Regions from separate parts of the Homo sapiens genome. Here region 2 is linked to region 1. The links come from fine-mapping of genetic effects on plasma protein levels. A gene starts in region 1. The other region holds a variant in brackets. All regions are shown on one strand. Distances are between the middles of the regions.

Region 1 (11,128 bases):
CAGGTAACATAACAGAATTACAGGTTGCAGGGATTAGGGTGTGGGCAACTTTGGTCGGCCATTATTCTGCCTTTTCCTGACTTTATAGATGGCTCTGAAAAGAAATTCCTGAAAACTGAGAAAATTCATTTCTCCTTCAGTATAGAGAATCTATTAGATCATCTAATATTTTAACTTATTTTGCAATATGATCCTGAAAACTTTTTAAAACTCACTCATATAACCCAAGTTAAGGGTCAGCTTTATTTATTCAGATTGCCAGTCCTTCCTCTTTAGAGTCCTGTTCATTAGAGAATGTACATAAAACAGCATTATTAGAAGCTCTTAACAAAGATTAGCCAGGCTATGAAAATTAACATTTGTTCTATTTTTTAGGACTCCATTCTATTCCTGGAAATATATATATTTAAAATCTAAATGTATATATGTACATTTGGGGACATCTATCAGGGTGGTTCACATATGAATGTTTTAGGATATATTGGCTTATTTTCTCATTCTCTCACATATTATATTTTATCTTTTATTCTCTTCTTTTCTCGATTCTCTCATTTTCTCTTTATCACCTTCTGCTTCTCTTTCTCTCTATACATAATGCAAAAATATACTACAATTGTCAATACTTGTAAAAGTAATTACACAGTTTTAATATTCAGACCTGTTTCTACAAATTACCTGGCTTCAGTGTTGGAAAATAGTTCATTAAAAAATTATTATAAAACCATTTTTTAATTAACTGAACCTAAATATTTTTACTTAAGAATACTAAGAACCTAAATATTTTACTTAAGAACATTTAGCTCACAGTTAACTAGTTATGACTATATATTTAACAGTGATTATTATGGCATTCTGCATTCCATTGACCAATAAAGGTGGAAAGAGGTGTAGCTGCCTCTCTGTGATTATCAGCTAAGTCTCATATAAACCTTGTTCCTGCACTATTTTTTAAATTCTATTTTCAATTTCTTTCTTTCTTTCTCATTCTTTCTTTTTCTTTTTTTCTCTTTCTTTTCTTTCTTTCTTTCCTTCTTTCTCCCTTTCTGCTTTTTTTCAAGCAGAAGATAAAATCATTTGCATCTAGTCTGAACCATCATTTCTCTTAAATATCTGTTTCTCTTCAGTGATGTATATTTCTTTATGGAAGTGTTTTTGGGAAAGTTATGGTTATTTGGCAGTTTGTTATACAAGACCTCATAAACTACTACAGCCTTAGTAAAGAGCATCATGGCAGAAGACAATTTATCTCTAATTGTTCCTCAAATTTTTATTTTAAAATAAATGAAACCATTTGGTTAATAAATTCATTTATATTTGTCAGCATTTTCTGAACTCCTGCACTCTGTGGAATATATTTCTATAACCGCCCCTATTGTTTTAAAATATGAATAAATCATTTGCAGATTTTCATGAAAATCCAAGTAAAATTAAAAATGAATTGGCTGGTTCATGAAAACCATGATTACTCAAATTATACCTGGATTTCAGTGAGCATAAACGAATTACAGAATTCTAGCATGTCTTTCATTTTTAAATCCAGGGTTGATAAATTTCTCTAGGCATTTAAATTCCTTCATTAAACTGATTATGACTAGTGTTTACTACATTCAGTTTCTATCTGTGCTAGCTGTGCTAGCTGTTGGGAATACCAAAATGAAGGTGATTTAGCTATAGTAGGAGCACTGTGGGAGAGCAAAGCACAGAGGAGGTGGACTCAGCACAACCTGGAAATTTGGGTGTCTTCCAAGCTCCAGAGTCATGGACCCAGCTGCCTACTCAAAATTCCACCTGAAAACATCTTCCATCAGACTGTGTGTCTTCTTCAGTGTCTTCTATTTTGGATATTGGCATTAATATCCATCCACTTGCACAAGCTAGAAACTTGGGCATAATTTCTCACTCTTCCCCCCTCAGCCAAAGTCTAGTCAATTACCACTCTCTGATGATTCTGTGTCTTAAACCATCTCACGCCTCTGCCAGCACCACAGGCCACACTTCTGTCATCCCTTGCTTGGACTTCTAAAGCAGTCTTCAAGCTACTCTCACTGTATCTACTCTTACCCCTCCCATTCTCTGCACCCTCACAACTCAGCACACTTGTCATTTTGTCTTCAACATCTGTCTTCCCAGCTAGACTAAGAAGGTCCATGAGGGGAAGAGCCATGTAGATCTTTTGATATGGTAGTACCAATAGCTTGCATGTTACTTGGTACAAAGTGGTATGAATTAAATATATGTTAAATGAATAAATGAAAGACTGACAGACGAGGGACAACAGACACGTAAAATAGAGTAAGGGAAGAAAGAAGAATGTGAACAAAGACAGTGGAAAGCTCAATAGCACAATGTGTTCAGTGAACCACAAGTAGTTCAACCGTACCTAATTTTAATGTACATACACAGCAAAGAATCCTTTTTAGAGGTAAGTAGGATTAATTTATGAACTTTAAGCACAGGCATTGGCCTAAGTCATTTTAAATAGGGAGGCAGAAACACAGTCTTATTTGCATTTTTGATAAATAATGACAGTAACAGAGGGGAGAATGATTTAAAGGTAGGTTAGTTAGAATGCTTTTCATTGCAAATTCAGCTAGAATAAGCTTAAGTAAAAAGAGATTTATTACAAGGATATTGGAATTTCTCATGGAAGTCAATCATAGCTAAATGGCTGAACTATAAGAATTTTCTGAAACCTGGATTGTGTTCTGTTCTTCTCTGTACATCAACTTTAAAGATATTACTTCGATCCACTAATATCAATTTTGTCAGGTCATTTATCAGGAAAAGATACTGATAATGCATTTTAATAGTATAAAGAGAATCTGAACGAAGAGAACACCAGACAAAATCATTCTGAAGAAGGTCATTTCTACAGGAGTACTGCAAGAGTTTTTAGAAGACTGTCGCAGCATTAAAGGAAGGTACTGTTCTGATAAAGAGCAGTTGTCAGTGTTATCTTTTAGTAACTAAGGTTTACTGAAAGAAGAGACATGGGATAGAGAAAAGAACTAAAGACAGGCTTTATCTGCCTCACAATTTTGCCTGGAACTAGCCCTAGTTAGGAAGAGATCTGCATTTCCTCTGAAGCCAATGGCAAGATGGAAAAAGAGGAAAGAGGGAAAGAGGCTACTTCAAATCAGTTTTTTACAGGAAAAACAGCTCCTGCAAAATTCTACTGCTTATGTATTCAATAAATAATTCTTGTTAAATATATATATTCAGTGATACATTTCTAGTTGCTATAACTGCTGCTATTATAGACAATGTGAGAAGGTTTGATTTGGTCTTTTTCACCCATTTTTTCCCCATCTGACTTACTAGAGTAATCATTGTCACATGAGGCCTCTCATTTAGGCCAATTATGATTATTTCTTCCCAGTTTTAGAATCACAGTAAGCAATCAACATTTGAAAGATTAAGGAAAGTTACATAAATAAGACTGAAAAAAAGGCTCATATATTTAGCTACTAGCCTGTTTTGCCGAATTTCAGTTAGAAAATTCAGCCAAGAGAATGCATTTGGCAGCTCGTATAGAGATTTCTCAAGAGGGCATCTAAATGAGATGTTGCAATTCTTGCTACATGTAGTTTATCATTAAACAAACGTGGTAAATATTATTGCAAAAGCAGAGATAAAGTTTAATTTTTTAAAAAATGAAAGAATGAGCTGGTCTTAAACTCTGTATCAAAATTCGTAGAAAATAATCTGAGTGTGTCTTTTTGAATGAACTAATCAGAAGATGACGAAATACAGTTGAATAAAAGGGATACAGAAGTATAAATACAGTGTATTATCTTAAAGAAAAATGAAAACTGTATCAATATGCTAATGTGTTACCTACCTCTTTTGAGTTCCGGGGTTCTGAGTAGTTTTTAAACTTTTTCACACTCATTTGGAGTATCATTTCCAAATAATTTGCCATAGAACTAAAATACATTTTTAAATTAACTTGCACAGTAAACTAGGAATTCAGCCAAAGGGAACTGAAAATTTAGATTTATAGTAATCAGGAAGTTGATCCTTGAACAAGATAGAGTTGGCTCTTGGACAGGAAAGCTATCTCCTTGACCATATGGATTTCCACTGGCCTTACAGAAATACTTGTGCTTTGATCTGGCATAGGTATCTTTTTCCAACTAGCTGGACTCTATTTTCTGAACCTAACACCCAAGGATTTTCAGTATAGATAGAAAATCTGACTAAACATGTAACTACCTAAATTGGTTTACTGAAATTTTGATAGACTCTGCCCATGTAGATAATCCTTGGCTACTGAGTTGATAATGAAGTTTTAAATCACTTATCTGCGGGACCCTGGACACAGGGCTGTCTTTAAACTCTTCCACTGAGTTCCAATGGCCTCATTAGTTTCATTGACCTTCACAGATATTATAAATTTGGAAAGCCAGTGGGAGAACGTGGCAATAACTAGAATAAGAGTAATAGGTGACATTAATCCATGTTACTATGTGATGGATGTTACCATGAGCCCTGCACCCAGATTACCTTAATTAACCTCATAGCAATGTTGTGTCAAATGTACTGAGTTATCACCACATTGCATATGAGGAAAATGAAACTTAGAGGGGTAAAATAAATTTCCCAAGGTTACACAGCTATGAAAGCTGAGTAGGGATTTGATTTTAGAGCATGTGTAACAACCTGTACCTGACCATTTCCTGAAAATAGGGCTACTGCAAAAACCAGGAGTGGAACTCATCTAATTCCAATGAATGATCTACCTATGACTCTCTAGACAAGTCACAGAATTTACCCAGTGCTCAGTTCACTCTTCTGTAAAATGAAGATGTTGGATTTCATGTCCTACAGGGCCTCTCTGAGCTCTCAAATTACATGCCCATAAAATATACTAGTTGTAAACTATTAGTAGAAGGAGCTTTAAAATCACTGTAGGGAGTCCAAGATTTGCCACTAACTTTTTATGATTGGCAGTGGTGAGCCATTTAACCTCTCCAGTTATTTGCCTCACTTCAAAGGTTATTTTTCATATATATGTCAGTGCTTCACAAAGTGCAATACAGCATAGAAATACAAAGTACTATGCCATCATCTAAAATAAGATTACTTCATAGCATCAGAATTATGGATTTAAAATATTATGTTGAATTGGCTTCTCACTCTTTTTCCCCTTTTACTTAGAACATCTGGTCTGCAATATTTTAAGGTAATGCTTATTTGTAGTAGATTTAAACAAAGAGAGGAAGAGAGGTAAAGACAGAGTTTCCGATTTTCCACTTACATATGAGAAAGGTGGGGTGTCCAAAGAAGACACACAGCCCTATACAGGGGGAGAAGGTGTGCGTTACTAACATATTAAGTAAACTTTAGTGAGGAACAGCAGTGGAAAATAATCTATATACCTTGGCTCTTTTGCAGTTTGACAAAGTTAATGATTAAAATCTCCTAGATTTTCCACTACAGTATCCCCAGGGTGTCTATTTACCTTGATTGATATTATTTTATCTCTTTTGGGCCAAAGATAACAGCCCCTTGCTTCTGTGTTTAATAATAATTCTGTGTTGCTTCTGAGATTAATAATTGATTAATTCATAGTCAGGAATCTTTGTAAAAAGGAAACCAATTACTTTTGGCTACCACTTTTACATGGTCACCTACAGGAGAGAGGAGGTGCTGCAAGACTCTCTGGTAGAAAAATGAAGAGGGTCCTGGTACTACTGCTTGCTGTGGCATTTGGACATGCTTTAGAGAGAGGTAAGATTTCTTTTGTTGTGACCATTTACAGGAATTCTTACTAGTTTAATTTTATATTATCACTTAAAAAATGAAATAAAAAGTAAGAAACAGAAGAACTGGTGAATATGTTGGGGAGAGGGATAAGGACCAGAGAGGCATTAATCAGAGCTCCACGATGCCATGTAATGTTGAATTGGAATTGACAAAAAAAATCAACACAAGAATCTTGTTAAAGAAAGTAAATGGAATGATATAATTTGTCAATTATCTCTTCCTCCTTTGTTGATAAGCAAGACCTAGAGAGAATAATTTAAAATTAGACATTTGCTAATTGTTACAAGATAATGCAAATAAAGACTGTGATCCACCATTAAGCATTTATTCAGACTTCAAATATTTATTACCATTGAGTGTAATATACCATGCCAATGATGCATGATGTCAACTTAGAGATTTCTTTGATCCCCTTAGAGGAATCTTATACATGCAGTATTTGAAAATGCATTGTATTTTTAAAAATATCCCTCACATAAAATTTTTCTATAGCTATGAAACATAACCACAAATAAGATAATTCAGTTATATTTTTCATTGAAATTATTCTTCAGATGGTGTGTTCATCTTTGGGCAATGTTTAAAAATTTTTTTACATGATAAAGACTGAGATTATGGGAAGTATACAACTTTATGAATTCTACAGCTGGGAAACTTTTCATCATTAGCTTCAATTTACTTTTCTGGCTGATTCTTTAATGTTCACAAGGGACATCTGCATTTATCCTGCTTTGTAAAATTAAGGTTTTCATTTAGTGCTGTCAGTTAACAGCCTCACCTAATTCGTACATTATTATTCATAATAGTAATGTGTTTTGCCAGTGGAATAAAATGTGTGTTCCCAAGAATTATCAGTTATTAACTGTAACATGAATAACCTTACTCTTGACTTTTTATTCTTCTTCTTACATTTACTTTTCCTTGGTCTTATTTCATCATTCAAATTATTTTAACTCGTCTTACCCATCAATTCTTAAGTAAGCTATGCGTCCTTAGGTAAGACTACAAAGTCTTTCCCAGACAGCATAGGGTATAAAAAAGCAACATAAATTGTGTCCCTTATAAGACCTCTGAATAGGCCATGTTCCAAGAAATCCCTTTAAGTCTTATTCTTTTGGCCAAGGATTTGCTGGGGCAGATCTGATCCTGAAAAATCCTACTGAAGCAGGTTCAGATCAGGGTCTTCAAACACAGAAGGTCCAATAATGGCTAGGAATTGGAATTATATATGGAGGCCATAAGCAGGAGCATGAATCACCATCTTAGACTGCTGACTCAATAGGTGCACATTGGCTTCACCTCAAAGAATGAAAGTGTCCTTTGGAGAATAACAGAGCATTCTGCAATCTATATTTCAACATTCTCAGCAGTCCTCAGATTCTGATGAAATGGATGCTAAAAACCTCCAGTCAGTCCCCTAGAAGATCTAAACTTCATTCTTATAACCCATGTGCCATATGCCAGATGATATCTTGAGACATACATAATACACTTGTAAGCATTAACTTTCAATATTTGGGGAGAGTAGTCCTGATCTATCAATTCTCTATTCTCTAATACCTGAGCATGACCCAAAGACCAAGTCAGCAGTTTACTTAGAAGCTAGCTGTGTTCTTCCTGGCAGGAAGTTACAAAGTGTACAGATTAAGGGAGTTCTGAGAACTCTTAGGTTCTGAGTAGCCTTGTATTGTGGGGGATTGGTTTGAATTGCAGTTTTCTCTGCCTGTTATAGTTCTAGAGAGCTGACCACCCACAGCATTTATTTAAGCACCTGTTTCAAAATATATTACACTCAAGACTTACCTTGAAAAGAAGTTTCTGTGGCCAAATATATTTAAGAAATGAGCCATAATTTATTCCTTCTTGGTGGTTTCACAATTCATGCCTTTGTCGTCCTAAAGGTTCTGAGAAACACTACAGGAAAGAAATCTTATCTAACTCAGAGTATCTAAACATATTGACCCTTTTCTACAATGTCTATACCTGTGGAACTATTCTTTGGAAACCTTGGGTCTAAAATGGATACTGTTACAGATGACCCTTTACTGGACAGGTTCCAATTAAGCCAGCCCTCTCCTATCAAACAGCATTGGGAATCTTGTTCCCAAGCCACTGGGTACATCTTGGAGAAGAGAGCTTACCAAATCTGCTAAATCTGGTTAGTACCATAAGAAAATGTCCACTTTTGCTACCCTATGAAAAGCAACAAGGCAGTATTTCCCAGTTGCCTACAAGTAGCTTCTTCCCCTAGGACTGAAATGGATGAAATACTAATATACAATATATCTTTCCCTCTTCCCTTCCAAAGAAACCAAGTAACAAAGACTGGTGATACAGCTATAAAATTTTTTTTTAACTTGCAGATAGAAAAGTTACCTTAATGACCAGGAAACATTTATAAAAATTGATTTTTTAAAATTAAACTACAGCAAAAAAATTCTCAGTTTTAAGTTACACACTGTTAACAGAGCACTAAAAATATTTTTTTTGCATTTTTTTCTTTTCTTTTTTTTCGATTCAAGTTTTCTTTTTTATTATTGTTATACTTTAAGTTCTAGGGTACATGTGCACAATGTGCAGGTTTGATACATATGTATACATGTGCCATGTTGGTTTGCTGACACCCATTAACTCGTCATTTACATTAGGTATTTCTCCTAATGCTATCCCTCCCCCTGCTCCCCACCCCATGACAGGCCCCAGGCTATGATGTTCCCCACCCTGTGACCAAGTGTTCTCATTGTTCAACTCCCAACTATGAGTGAGAACATGTGGTGTGTGGTTTTCTGTCCTTGTGATAGTTTGCTCAGAATGATGGTTTCCAGCTTCACCCATGTCCCTGCAAAAGACATGAACTCATCCTTTTTTATGGCTGCATAGTATTCCATGGTCTATATGTGCCACATTTTTTAAATCCGGTCTATCATTGATGGACATTTGGGTTGGTTCCAAGTCTTTGCTATTGTGAATAGTGCCACAATAAACATACATGTGCATGTGTCTTTATAGCAGCATGATTTAAAATCCTTTGGGTATATACCCAGTAATAAGATGGCTGAGTCAAATGGTATTTCCAGTTCTAGATCCTTGAGGAATAGTCACACTGTCTTCCGCAATGGTTGAACTAGTTTACAGTCCCACCAACAGTGTAGAAGTGTTCCTGTGTCTCCACATCCTCTCCAGCACCTGTTGTTTCCTGACTTTTTAATGATTGCCATTCTAACTGGTGTGAGATGGTATCTCATTGTGGTTTTGATTTGCATTCCTCTGATGACCAGTGATGATGAGCATTTTTTTCATGTGTTTTTTGGCTGCATAAATGTCTTCTTTTGAGAAGTGTCTGTTCATATCCTTTGCCCACTTTTTGATGGGGTTGTTTGTTTTTTTCTTATAAATTTGTTTAAGTTCTTTGTAGATGCTGGATATTAGCCCTTTGTCAGATGGGTACATTGCAAAAAGTTTCTCCCATTCTGTAGGTTGCTGTTCACTCTGATGGTAGTTTCTTTTGCTGTGCAGAAGCTTTTTAGTTTAATTAGATCCCATTTGTCAATTTTGGCTTTTGTTGCCTTTGCTTTTGGTGTTTTAGACATGAAGTCCTTGTCCACACCTATGTCCTGAATGGTATTGCCTAGGTTTTCTTCTAGGGTTTTTATGGTTTTAGGTCTAACATTTAAGCCTTTAATCCATCTTGAATTAATTTTTGTATAAGGTGTAAGGAAGAGATCCAGTTTCAGCTTTCTACATATGGCTAGCCAGTTTTCCCAGCACCATTTATTAAATAGGGAATCCTTTCTCCATTTCTTGTTTTTGTCAGGTTTGTCAAAGATCAGAGGGTCGTGACACAGCTACAAAATTATTAAGGTAATCATGCCAACAGGAAATAAACCACTGCAGTTGATAAGAGCTGTTGGCAAAAAGAGGTTTTTATTATGAACATTTTCCTTTTTGCTTTAAGCATTTCATTCACAGCATTTTTTTTTATTAAACATGATATAAAACTGCAAGAAGAAAGTTCCCTTTGGGTTGGTGGGTGAGCTACACTTTTCCTTCTCTTCCTTCCCTGTCAAAACAGCCCTACGCAAGGGCTGAAGTCATACAGCTCTCATCACTGAGAGCAATGTTAACCTCCCTGAAAATCAATAGCAATGTTTCATCTTACTGATATCAGGTGCAATGCCACATATGCAGTCACCAATATGTAATATAAGGAGAAGTGTGCACACTCTGTAAAACACCACCAGCTTAATCTATTTAGGACAGGAGAAAATGAAGAAACCTCTAAAAGGAATTGATGATGCCCTTCCCCAGTATTTTTGGTCACCTAACTTCTTCATTCTACCCATTGCTTCTTCTCTCTCTCTCCTATTTTTCTCATTCATTCTGATCTGACCACACTGGCCTCCACATTATCTCACACTCTAAGTCCTTTGCACCCCAGGGCTTTGCATTAGTTCTTCTCTATTCCTAGAACATTGATTGTCCAGATATTCTCATAGCTCCCTTCCTCACCTTCTTCAGGCATCTACTCCAAGTCCATTTATAGAGGGGGCTTCCCTAGCCAACCTACCACAAATAACACCTACCAGTCCATTATCTTCTATCCCCTTATTTGGATTTATTTTTTCTTCTTAGCACCTAGTACCTTACCTTATCACTGGTTGTTCATTTGCTTATTGTAACAAATATAGAATGCAAGCCTTGTGAAATTAAGAACTTTTGTTATTTCCTGTAATTCCCAGTAATAGAACATTACTTGGCATTTAGTAGGTGTTCAAAAAATTATTGTGTAATATTACAAAATTGGGTTTTTGTATATGTATGTCTACCATCAGACTCAGGTTCCTTAAAGATTGGTGGCTTTAGAGTTTTCTTTCATATGATGCCATGCTCCCAGGAGATAGCTGATGTGTCTGTGTGTGTTTTTGTGTGTGTGTATAAATAGGTATGTACATAAATATATACACTCATATGTATAAAAATGATCATGAACTGGATTTAGCCAATAATAATAATAATAATAATAATAATAATAACTGACAGCAATATTCTGTTTCCTGAGGATACAATCTTCATTTTACAAATGAGAAAACTGAGGAAGAACAGAGAGGATAAGCAACTTGCCAGCGGTCTCACTATCACCTAGGGTAGCAGGAATTCAAATCCAGGTGGTCTGTATCCAAAGCCTCTATCTTAAATCATGATAAAATACATCCTCATATGGATGTTTTCTTTGGCCCTCATGGTTTGGGCCAACAAAGTTTCTTTAAGTCTGTCTTTAAAGTCTCATTTCACTTGTCAACATTTTAAAACCTGGAGATTCCACAAAAAAATCTAGATTTCTAGCTTCTCTGGAAACACA
Region 2 (11,128 bases), 31 kb after region 1:
GAAAGAGACATTTGTGACTTCTTCATTGATGCTTTAGATCTAACATTTTAAAGGAGTGCTTTCACTATGTATATCTGGCAAGAAGAGAAGCTGCATTTGGGTACTGAAAATTTGGAAAGATTCATTAGGGATCTCTTGATCTTGAGTCTGTGGCTTGGGTACATAAGATCTATCGCATGGCAGATGTGCTCCCATGCATCTCTTGAGGCCAAGGAGGTGAAATTGTGATATTATTTCTCCAAATAGTGCGTTCATCACGAAACCAAGAAAACTGAGAATGTTGATAAGCTAACATATTTATTTTTAACTGTTTAGCAATCTCATAAAGTTAGCCCAAAAAGTGCCTACTGCTGATCTGGAGGATGTTTTGCCACTAGCTGAAGATATTACTAACATCCTCTCCAAATGCTGTGAGTCTGCCTCTGAAGATTGCATGGCCAAAGAGGTAAGACAAGCTTTATTATCATTATCACCATGTGCCAGGTATTGAGTGCCAAGTACTGAGTGGCAGGTACTCTTCTAAGTTCTATTTCATATGCATTATCCTAACGGATGCTTACATGTATTCTATGAAATATAAATAATTATTAACATCACTGTACAGGTGAGAAAACAGAAGATTAGTAAGGGTCAATAATTTGTTACCACACAACTAGTAGGTGGCAAAGTCCATATGCAAAGATGAGATTATCTGATTTCCAAGACCTTATGCTACTTGCACTGTATGGTATTCATTACCACATATGGTCATTTAAATTTAATTATAGTTAAAGTTAAACATATATGTTTAAGTTGAATATGATTTAAAATTCAGTTCTTCAGTTACACTAACCACATTTCAAATGCACAATGGTATTGGATAGTGCAAATACAGATCATTTTCATTATTGCGTAAAGTTCCATTAAGCGGCACTTCAACCATTATACTAGTAGACGCTACTACTGTTTTTATTATACTTTTTATAATTTGATGCCCATCTCAATTTTTTTTACCATTTTTCATTTTCATAATCCTTTAAAACTATTTAAATTTGAATAATTGCTTTAGCTGAAGGTCAGTCTCCAAGATCTTGTCAATCTCTGTAGTAATAGATACATTGTGTTGCCTTGTCTTTTTCCATTAAAAATGCATGTCTGTGTTAATAGATGCTTTTCTATAAGGATTTATAATGGCTAAATAGGACTCTGTTGCCTATATCCATGTCATGTATTACATCTATCTATCTAGACACACCATATTTTTATTTTACTAATCCTCTATTGTATTTAGGTTGTGTTGGTTTTTTTAAAATATTTTAGGCAATCGTTGCACTTAATAGCCTTATAGTTGTTGTCGTTTTATCTACAATTATTTTCTGAGTATAAATTCTTAAAAATAGAATTGTACATTTTTAAGACTTTTAGTACATATTGACAAACTGCCTTTCCAAATATTGTACCAATTTTCTTTCTGAGAGTCTTCATACTGACTTTCATAAATGTGATGCCAAAGCTTGTAAGCCTATGTAATTCTTATTTTTAATTAGACTATCAGGAAACTAACAATGCACAAACTAACCATTCGTTTTGTAGCTGCCTGAACACACAGTAAAACTCTGTGACAATTTATCCACAAAGAATTCTAAGTTTGAAGACTGTTGTCAAGAAAAAACAGCCATGGACGTTTTTGTGTGCACTTACTTCATGCCAGCTGCCCAACTCCCCGAGCTTCCAGATGTAGAGTTGCCCACAAACAAAGATGTGTGTGATCCAGGAAACACCAAAGTCATGGATAAGTAAGTAGAGGTGATGTGAAAACGTTTTCCCATTTTAAGTTCATCTGGACAAAAAGTGGGGGCCAGCCAGATGGAGGGAAGGTATGCTATCACTCATTTCAAACATAGGCAAAGTACTACCTTTATGCTTTTCATGGACTTTAAGTATTTGTTAATTAATTGTAAATGACTAAAATTTTTAAAACACCATAATCGAGTGTGATAGAAAGATTTTGGGTAGTGAGAAAGGAGCTTAGAGTTCCTAATTGTGCCTTCTCTGTTTCCTGTGCATGGCCAAAAGAAGTGACTTGATAATTCTGAACTTCAGCCTATTGTTAATTAATTTGGAAATGTTAACTCTTGCCTTACTTAGCACACAGACTGCTAATGAGAAATGCATGTAGAAATGTAAGTGAAAGTAAATGTGAAAACACATATTTGCATACAATGCTGAACACATGTAAAATATATCATGCAACCAGAAATGTTTATAATATTATTAACTAGTTTTATCATATTACTTCTGGTTCAAAGTCACAAATCAAAAGCCTAAAGTATACTAAACTTTTGGACAATAAGCATTTGATACAAATAAAAGAGATACCAAGCACAGAATATTTTTTTCTTAGCATTATCAATATTCATTTTCATTAAATTTAAAAAGAGATTTAATGCAAAGAAATGGTAAACTTTTATCCTGTTTCATCCAACTAAAAAAAAGTAAGTTAAAAATATACCATGGTTTGAATAGATGTGTATGCATAATGATGGCATAAAAATATTTCACAAATAGTTTGAAGCAGCAGGTTGAAATATCAATTAGCAATATCAGATGGTAGAAGTTACATAGGACTGAAACTTTACATTTTTCTAAATGTGTATTGCTTTTATAAGTGCATAGACAGCAGTGGGGTAAGACATAATGAAGGAATTTACACAAACCAATTTTCACAGAAAAGCCTTTTGAAGTATCCACTTGATGCTTTATACAGAGTCAATTGCATTATGCTTGCACAAAGACAGTTCCATATGCATTTGAAGTAGATATGTTTACATATAATATATTTAAATGTATATTACATGCAAAGCTTTAATTCAGTATTGACTAGTCACAATAGCAAGTATTAATAGCTTGTATCTCAATGAAAGTATTTTATAATCCAAAGCCTGTTGATTTAGAGTCAGTCTGAGCTAAATCTCTTCTTTTTAATTAAGATGCAGAAACCAGGTGCTCTGCCTTTATGATAGATATTTCACATTTTAAAATGTAGGCCAGGCACAGTGGCTCATCCATCTAATCCCAGCACTTTGGCAGGCCGAGTCAGGCGAATCACTTGAGGTCAGAAGTTCCAGACCACCCTAGCCAACATGGTGAAACCCTGTCTCCACTAAAAATACAAAACTTAGCCGGGCATGGTGGTGGGCGCCTATAATCCCAGGTACTCGGGAGGCTGAGGCATGAGAATCGCTTGAACCCAGGAGGCAGAGGTTACAGCGAGCCAAGATGGCACCACTTCACTCCAACCTGGGTGACAGAGGGAGACTCTGTCACAAAAAATAAATAAATAAATAAATAAATAAATAGGAAATATATAACACATATCTCCTTTTCTCCCTCATGCTAGGTATACATTTGAACTAAGCAGAAGGACTCATCTTCCGGAAGTATTCCTCAGTAAGGTACTTGAGCCAACCCTAAAAAGCCTTGGTGAATGCTGTGATGTTGAAGACTCAACTACCTGTTTTAATGCTAAGGTATATTTGTTGGATTTTCTTTATCAAGCACATAGATCAAGGGTTGGAAAATTATAGTTCATGGGCCAAAACTTGCTCACTGCCTACTTTTTTATGGCCTACAAACTAAGAACAGAAGAATGGTTTTACATTTTTACATTGTTGGGAAAAAAGCAAAAGAACATCAGTATCTCATGACCCATGAAAATTATTCAAAATTCAAATTTCAGTGTTCATACATACATTAACTTCCACTGGGACACAATCATCCTCATTGTTTCTGCAAAGCTTACAACTGCTTCTGTACAGAGTTGAGTAGTTGCAACAAAGGCCACATATGGCCTGCAAACCCTAAAATTATTATCCGGCCTTCTGTAGAAAATAGTTGCCAATGCTTAATGATACAATATTTGGAATTTTGATTTAATGGCTTGATGGGACAAGGTTTCAAGACAAATAATTTTGTTATGCAATTATTGTTTTCTTACAGGGCCCTCTACTAAAGAAGGAACTATCTTCTTTCATTGACAAGGGACAAGAACTATGTGCAGATTATTCAGAAAATACATTTACTGAGTACAAGAAAAAGTAAGAAACTTGTTCTGGCTGTATCCTCCAAATTTATCAATAATATTTTCATAGTACTATGAATTGAAAGCATAGTTGAACACTTAAGCTTGTCTTCAGTGAACAACAACAAAAGGAGGTTCAATTAGGAGTTTTTTAAAGTAGTCAGAATCTCATAGAGTGGAATAATAGACACTGGAGACCCCAAAAGGTGGGAGGGTAGGAGAGGGGTGAAGGATAAGGAATTCCCTATTGGATACAATGTACACTATTTGGGTGATGATTATACTAAAAACCTAGACTTCACCACTATGCCATACATCCATGTAACAAAAATGCACTTGTACCCCCTAAATCATTTTATTTTTTTAAAAGTAGTTGGAATCTAACATCTGTATAAGAAGAAGCTAAGTTTTTCTGGAGGAAACATGTCATGTGTAGCAAGTGGGTGGCCAATTAAAACAGCCATAAAAATATAGATGACGAAATCTATCTGCAGGAACTTGAGTCAAAATGGCAAAATGAGCACATAGCTTAGCAACATTCTTACCCCAGAATTTTCTGTAGATATTGCTGTACAAAATTGAGGACCTATAAAACTGCTAAAAATGTTATCTAACTTCATGGCATATTGCCTGGCAAGAAGACCCAAACTTTCAATCAAGCATACTGTCAGCTATCACCAGCATATATTCCCTATAAATTAGAAATAGAAATGTTAACTACCAATAATGTTATATAATAGTCATTTTTCTCAATTAAGAGAAGGAAAAAGCATTTCTCTATAAATAGACATTAACAGTAAAATAATAGGCCACAATAAGGTAAGAAGTGGTACTGGGTTCTTGGGGAAAGTCTCCATTGAGAAGACCATGTCATTTTTCCTAACGTTAGTAAATTTCTCAGATCCTATTCCCTCCTCCCCCCAACTTTCTTTTTTTTTTTTTGCCTCCTTTGAGTCTCTTCTTGCCTCATTTGCACCCCCCGGCAGCTCAAACCTACTTGTTTCAACAATGCTTTTATGAACTAACTGGTCCCCCTTACCCTTTTGTCCCTTCCCAGCATCCACTCTTGCCAAGCCCAACTCTAGATTAATTTGAGTCTCCTTACCTCCCATTGCCCCCCGCTGGGCTGGCAAGCATTTCCTGAAGAAAGTCATAAAACCAGGCTGAGTTGTTCATGGGAGTGGAGAGACGCCGAGATCATCGATTGTACAAATTGAAAGAATCAGGAGATATCAAGTCTTATCACCATCCTGAAAGAGAAATGGAGAGTTCGTTTTTAGTAGAGCTAAAAATAAGAGCGAAAATTTCCTTACTCCTGTATTGGTGTTTTCCAACATAGTGAGTTGAGAAGTAGATAAATTGAGGGTGAAATTATATAAATTATGAGAGGAAAAAAAGGCATTAAGCTGGTATGAGGTCCTGTAAAGGAAATATTCTTTAAGGAATTTGAAATTTAAAACTGAAGAGAAGGTGAAAGGTTAGGATAAAATAGAAGAGGTACTCTTCCATTTTGAAATAATGAGCAAATGAAAGAAGACTGGACTTCCAATTCAGCAGCGATTTGTATGTTTATTTTTATGATCTCGAAGAGGCATGTTTCACTTTCTGATCTCAAATTGACTATTCTATACCACAGGTATAGAATTTTCTTGAGACAGGCAAGTATTTCTATTTTCATTTTTATTGTAAAAGATCTGAAATGGCTATTATTTTGCATTAGAAATTTGTATAAAATAAATACATGTAGTAAGACCTTACATTTAAATGGTTTTTCAGACTGGCAGAGCGACTAAAAGCAAAATTGCCTGATGCCACACCCACGGAACTGGCAAAGCTGGTTAACAAGCACTCAGACTTTGCCTCCAACTGCTGTTCCATAAACTCACCTCCTCTTTACTGTGATTCAGAGGTAGGAAAATGTAACCCTCCACTTAACATGGCAGAATCTTTTAAGAACGTATGCACTCCAATCTACTCATTTCTTTCCTGTTATTGAGATGCCATTATGTGACAGGCTTTTCCTGGTGTTATTGTAACTTGGCTGTCTTTGCAATGAAAGTAAGAAACATAACTGATTTCATGCTATGCTCATTTAAAAGCAAGTTGAGGTAGTTGTAAAACTTAGGAAATTTTATACTTTTTTTAAGAAACAAAAGAGTCTGTGAACACAGGCAACAAAGTATGTGTAGTGTTTTACAAATTGTGAGTTGTAACCTAGTAACAGCCTATTTAAATGAAAAAGAGAAGAATAAGAATACAGTGAGAACATCAGAGTTCATTACCTTCACATAGTGAAGGTAAATTGTATTTCATATATCTGTATGTGTGTTTATGTAGATACATACATATGCATATATAGGCAGGTAGA[T/C]TGATAAAAATAAATACTTTAGAAAAATGGGGTCATATCATACCTTCTATTAATATGTTAATTATAAAAATATTATTTAACTTTGTTTTAATATGACATAAGAAAAAAATGCAACTGAAGAATTTCTAAAGGTCACATAAATGTTTCATTACTATAAGAGTTATTTTCTAAAAACTAAAAAATGATTTTAAAGAATATTAAAATTTTAGTCATTTTTTATTACGAATTTCTTTTTTAGACACTATCAATTGTCTCCAAACTCTGAAAGCTAAAGATATTAGAAGTCCTATATATCTTCCAGTTTCCCTCCCTACTCCCCTCAATTTTGGATAGTTCTTGGATTCATCTTTCTTTAAATGTCCCTTCCCCTCCTCCCTGTCTCCCCTTTTTCTTCCTTCCCCTCCCGCTTCCTGGTTCAGGTCCAATATTGTTAACAGTAAAATAACCCCTTCCCCTATTCCCCTCCTCCTTTCTCTCTTTCCCCTTCTCTCCCATAAATGTATTTGCATAATTGCCAGATCATTTATTTTTTAATTTGTGCAAAACACCAGCAGTTCTGGCCAAACCTTTTTGTTTTCTCTGATAGTATTAATAGATGAATTAGTGTTTATCTAATCACCACATCTGAGGCCTATTGGTTTTCTCCTATAAACCACAGTGTTAGGTTGGTATCTTGTATTCTGCCCATCTTTATATAGACTGAAGGTGTGAGAGAGGGGAGGAGACCTCAGGTAGGTTGTGTGGGCCCATTGTTAGTAGACCTGAGCTATGCTTCGACTTCTGAGATTTCAAGTGTCTTATGCTAAGATTTCTTTCACCAAGTCAGCATCTGCCCTATTTTCACGGTGAGGGGTGTATTTTGCTGGCCTTTTTCAGAAAATGTCAGCCCATACGTTCACATCCTCCATTTTACCTGTTACTCTCCAGCAAGCATTTCATTTTTTTAGAAGAGTCAAAAGATAAAAACAGCACTTCATTTCACTTTACTGCTTATTTGGAGACATTAGTAATAACTCCAAGAATTGTGTTGTCTTGCCCACTCTATTTCTGAAATATAGAGGCAGGGTTAGGAACAATTCTATGCCATACCAAATGATACTTAGGTTAAATGATTTCATGCCAATTAGAATTAGAAGCCCTTAAACCCGTTTTTTTTTTGTTTGTTTGTTTTTTGGAGATGAAGTCCCGTTCTGTCACCCAGGCTGGAGTGCAGTGGTGAGATCTTGGCTCACTGAAAACTTCACCTCCTGGGATCAAGTGATTCTCCTGCCTCAGCCTCCCGAGTAGCTGGTATTATAGGTGCCCACCACCACGCCCAGCTAATTTTTGTATTTTTGGTAGAGACAGGGTTTCACCATGTTGGCCAGGCTGATCTGGAACTCCTGACCTCAAGTGATCCACCCGCCTCAGCCTCCCAAAGTGCTGAGATTACAGGTGTGAGCCACTGCGCCCGGCCAGAAGGCCCTTTCTATAAGTGAAATAATTTAAGAATTTACCTGAAGTTTTGTTCATTTATCAGCCACGAAAGCAATAAAGCCCAGTTTCTATTAGACTGCATTTAAAAATACCCAAGAACTTAATTTTTAAAAAAGCAAGTCACGAAAGTATAAATGTTCAAAGAAAACTATAAAGATCATCTAGTGTAATTTCTCACTCAGTTAATTCCTTCTAGAGGTGCATTCAGCCTCCATTTAAATTTCTATAGTCAATTTATCTACTCCTAAGAGTAGAAATGGAAATGGCCTATTTCATTGCCAGGTAGCTGCATTATGAGAACATTCTTCTATAAATTAAGCTGTGATATTCCCTTTGTAATTTCTCCTGCAATCACCCTGGCTTTCTCTATCAACTAGAAAATGTCTATTCTCTGTTCGCAATAGCAGCTCTTTTATACTTGAAGTGACTTTTTAAAAATTAAGCTGTGTAAAGTATTTTTTTAAAGTCTTGGGCTATGCATTCCAAATTTCTTAATATCCATATTTTAGTAAAGTTTTATTTGTTTTGTTATGTTTTGTTTTGTTTTATTTTATTGTACAGTGCCTAAGAAAAAAGTCTTAGTTTGACAAATGGAGCTACATCTTTTTCTAATTTCTTCCTTATAACCTTAGGGATTCTGGTTTCTTTTCTAATTTCCATATTTACACTCTGGTCCCAAACCTATTTGCTAATCTTGTTTGTAACAATTTATAAAGTCAGAATTCCAGATGAAGAGAGTACGGTAGAATAAAAGCCTTTTCTTTAAATTCTCCTGACAAATATGCCATCTTAATCTTTCATTAAAATTCAAACTACTTAAGATTCTCAACATAAAAACAGAAGAAGCTGGATTGTCAGAATATTTTGGTCATTAAAACATTTTTAGCATAAAATAATTAATTAAATTGAACAGTTCTTTCTTTTCATACCAAGTTGCTTTTAGTAATCTAAATTTAGTTCCAATTTAGGTGGCCTTAACCTAGAAAAATAAAATCACCTTACATAGAAGTTGTTTGCTACCAGAAAAATTTTCTCTGAGAGTCTGTTATTACGAAAGAAGAAGAAAACAGTCTAAATGTCTTTTAGATTCTATAAGAAATATCACTTTTGAAACCTTTCCCTGTCCCTTTGTTATCTGTCTATACAGATATGCACTGTCCTGCCTGACACCATACAAGACAAACTGAGCTTTAAGCGCAAATTCATGCTTCCTAAAAGCCCCTGGTTTTTCATTTCTTTGAGTTGGTTTTCAATATAACATATTGCCATTCAAATCATTACAATGATGAGAAGACAGGTTTGTAGCTCTCTCACTTCTTGCTTTATCGACAGTAAATTTATAGCAGCTGAGTAGCCTTTCAGTAATTGCTAAAGTAGAGTGCGATGAATGGAGTTGTTGAGATACTTGTGCACATTTGATTATTCAGAGTACACAGAGATTAAATCCTCTGCTATTTCAATTAGCCCTCTGATTGCCTTTGTAAACTGATCTCATAGCTAGGTAGGCAAGCTCACCCCTCCTTTCTGACTTTACTTTAGTGCAACATCTGTTTGAACAGCATTCTCTTTAATTTCCAATGCCTAACGTGAATGTCCCATTTGTCCTATAATATTTGGATCCTAATTTGTGAGATCTCCTTGTCATACATTTGCTTGAAAAAACTTTTCCTTAAAAGTAATATCCATCTACTCCTTTCACTGCAAGTCACTTATATCCAGGGATCAGTCTCTACTTGTCATTCCAAATACACTTGGCACAACTACTGGAAGACTGGGAAAAGGGGCTTCTGAACCATACTTAGTGTTTCATTACATGGGTATCTACCCCTATCCTCACCCAATCTTGAAATGACCAGGAAATAGAACAATCAATGTCATTTTCTTTTGGCTTTACCATGGCACTCTTAGAAGTGGTTCATTTGTTTATGCCAAAAAAGACCCATTTGCCTACAGAAAAACCTATAGTTACAAAATTAGACTTGAAATCTTCTTTTCTCTTTCTACCATCATTCAGGCAGGGCATCCCTTTGGGCTCTTCTGAGAACTCATTACTATGCTTCCTTTAAAATGTTTCAACAGACTGCTAGTGAGCATCAGATATGATTTCCCAAAGTATTCCAAAAGTCATTGTAATATGCTGGAATTGATCACTAAAATCTTAAAAACACAGAGACAAATACAAATAGCCAAGTGGAAGCCGGGCAAAGAGGAGACTGACAAGTAGAGTGATATACTGTCTACCCCCCACCACCTGTCTTTCTTGTGTCAGGAAAAACTAGTATAGTCACTGTAGTTTGTTTTATCTCTCAGTATAACTTGATTTTATAATCTTCAGTGTCATAGCTATCATTGATTAAGCCATTGCTATTTGTTAAGCAGAAATATTAATAGCCTGGCATGTATGTATTTATAGAATAACCCAAAACAATTCTAGATGTTAATTAATATTTTAATTCCCCCTTTTACAGATGGGTTGAATGAAACTTACAGAGGTTATATGATGTTAGAAAAATCTAAATTTATTCTGTATTAGTCTGTTACTCTCCCTCAATGTCCTTGTCATAGACGTCAGCCCTAACTTAGCTAGTCATGACAAAAGCAAACTATTGATAGAAGACTATTGACTGAAAATCCAAAATTATTTTTAAGTAGCAAAAATGATACCAGGTTGGTAATATCGCTGTGAATTTTATCCATCTCACTTCCTTGGACTCTTCCTCCATTAGACATACTCTCTTCTTTTGTGTCAACATTTTTGCCAGCTCTGTCTAATTTGTATTAAAGTTACTCTTCTTCTTATCTCAAAAAATAATAAATAAGGCACTTTAGACACCTCTCTAGCTATATTTCTTTCTCCTCCCTTACAGCCAAGATTCTTGCAAGAATACCATATACTCCAACTCCTCACACCTCTTATTAATTCCTCAACCCTTTGCAGTCTGGCTTTTGATGGTACCATATGACTGTCAACAAAGGCACGCCAACAATATCCTTCTTGTTAAATCTAATAAACATTTTTCAATTCTTACCAGATTTCTCCACAAAACAGTTGATACCCATAAGTATACCTTCCTTCTTGAAACAATTTACTTAGCACCTGTAGTATTATTTTCTACTTTTTGTCTTTCTATGATTCCTCTCTTCTTGTTCTATTTCATATTGTCCTCTTCCTTTACCTGTCTCTTAAATTTGTTTCCAGAGTTTTTTCCTTGTTCTTCATTTCC

Alleles and levels. Alleles are on the strand shown, and positions count from the first base shown. The strength of an association depends on the size of the effect and on how common the allele is.
For the plasma level of the protein whose gene starts at base 5,615 in region 1, T is the low allele of the variant in region 2 and C is the other (strong association).

Evidence for each region. PIP is the posterior inclusion probability: the model's chance that the variant is causal. The UK Biobank Pharma Proteomics Project read protein levels with antibody pairs (Olink). The fine-mapping took linkage between variants from a reference panel, not from the people measured, so its PIPs are less certain.
Region 2: its variant is fine-mapped to the plasma level of the GC protein (UK Biobank, PIP above 0.99).

The regions. Positions count from the first base shown.
Region 1 is chr4:71,778,566-71,789,693 of GRCh38, reverse strand. GC (GC vitamin D binding protein) reads left to right here and starts at 5,615. Exons shown (of 13, transcript NM_000583.4): 1 at 5,615-5,733. The coding sequence starts at 5,676.
Region 2 is chr4:71,747,359-71,758,486 of GRCh38, reverse strand. GC (GC vitamin D binding protein) reads left to right here. Exons shown (of 13, transcript NM_000583.4): 7 at 316-445; 8 at 1,573-1,775; 9 at 3,380-3,509; 10 at 3,979-4,076; 11 at 5,837-5,969. Among named protein-coding and RNA genes, the nearest start is that of GC, 31 kb to the left of the region's middle. The variant T/C (reference allele first, on the strand shown) is at 6,429.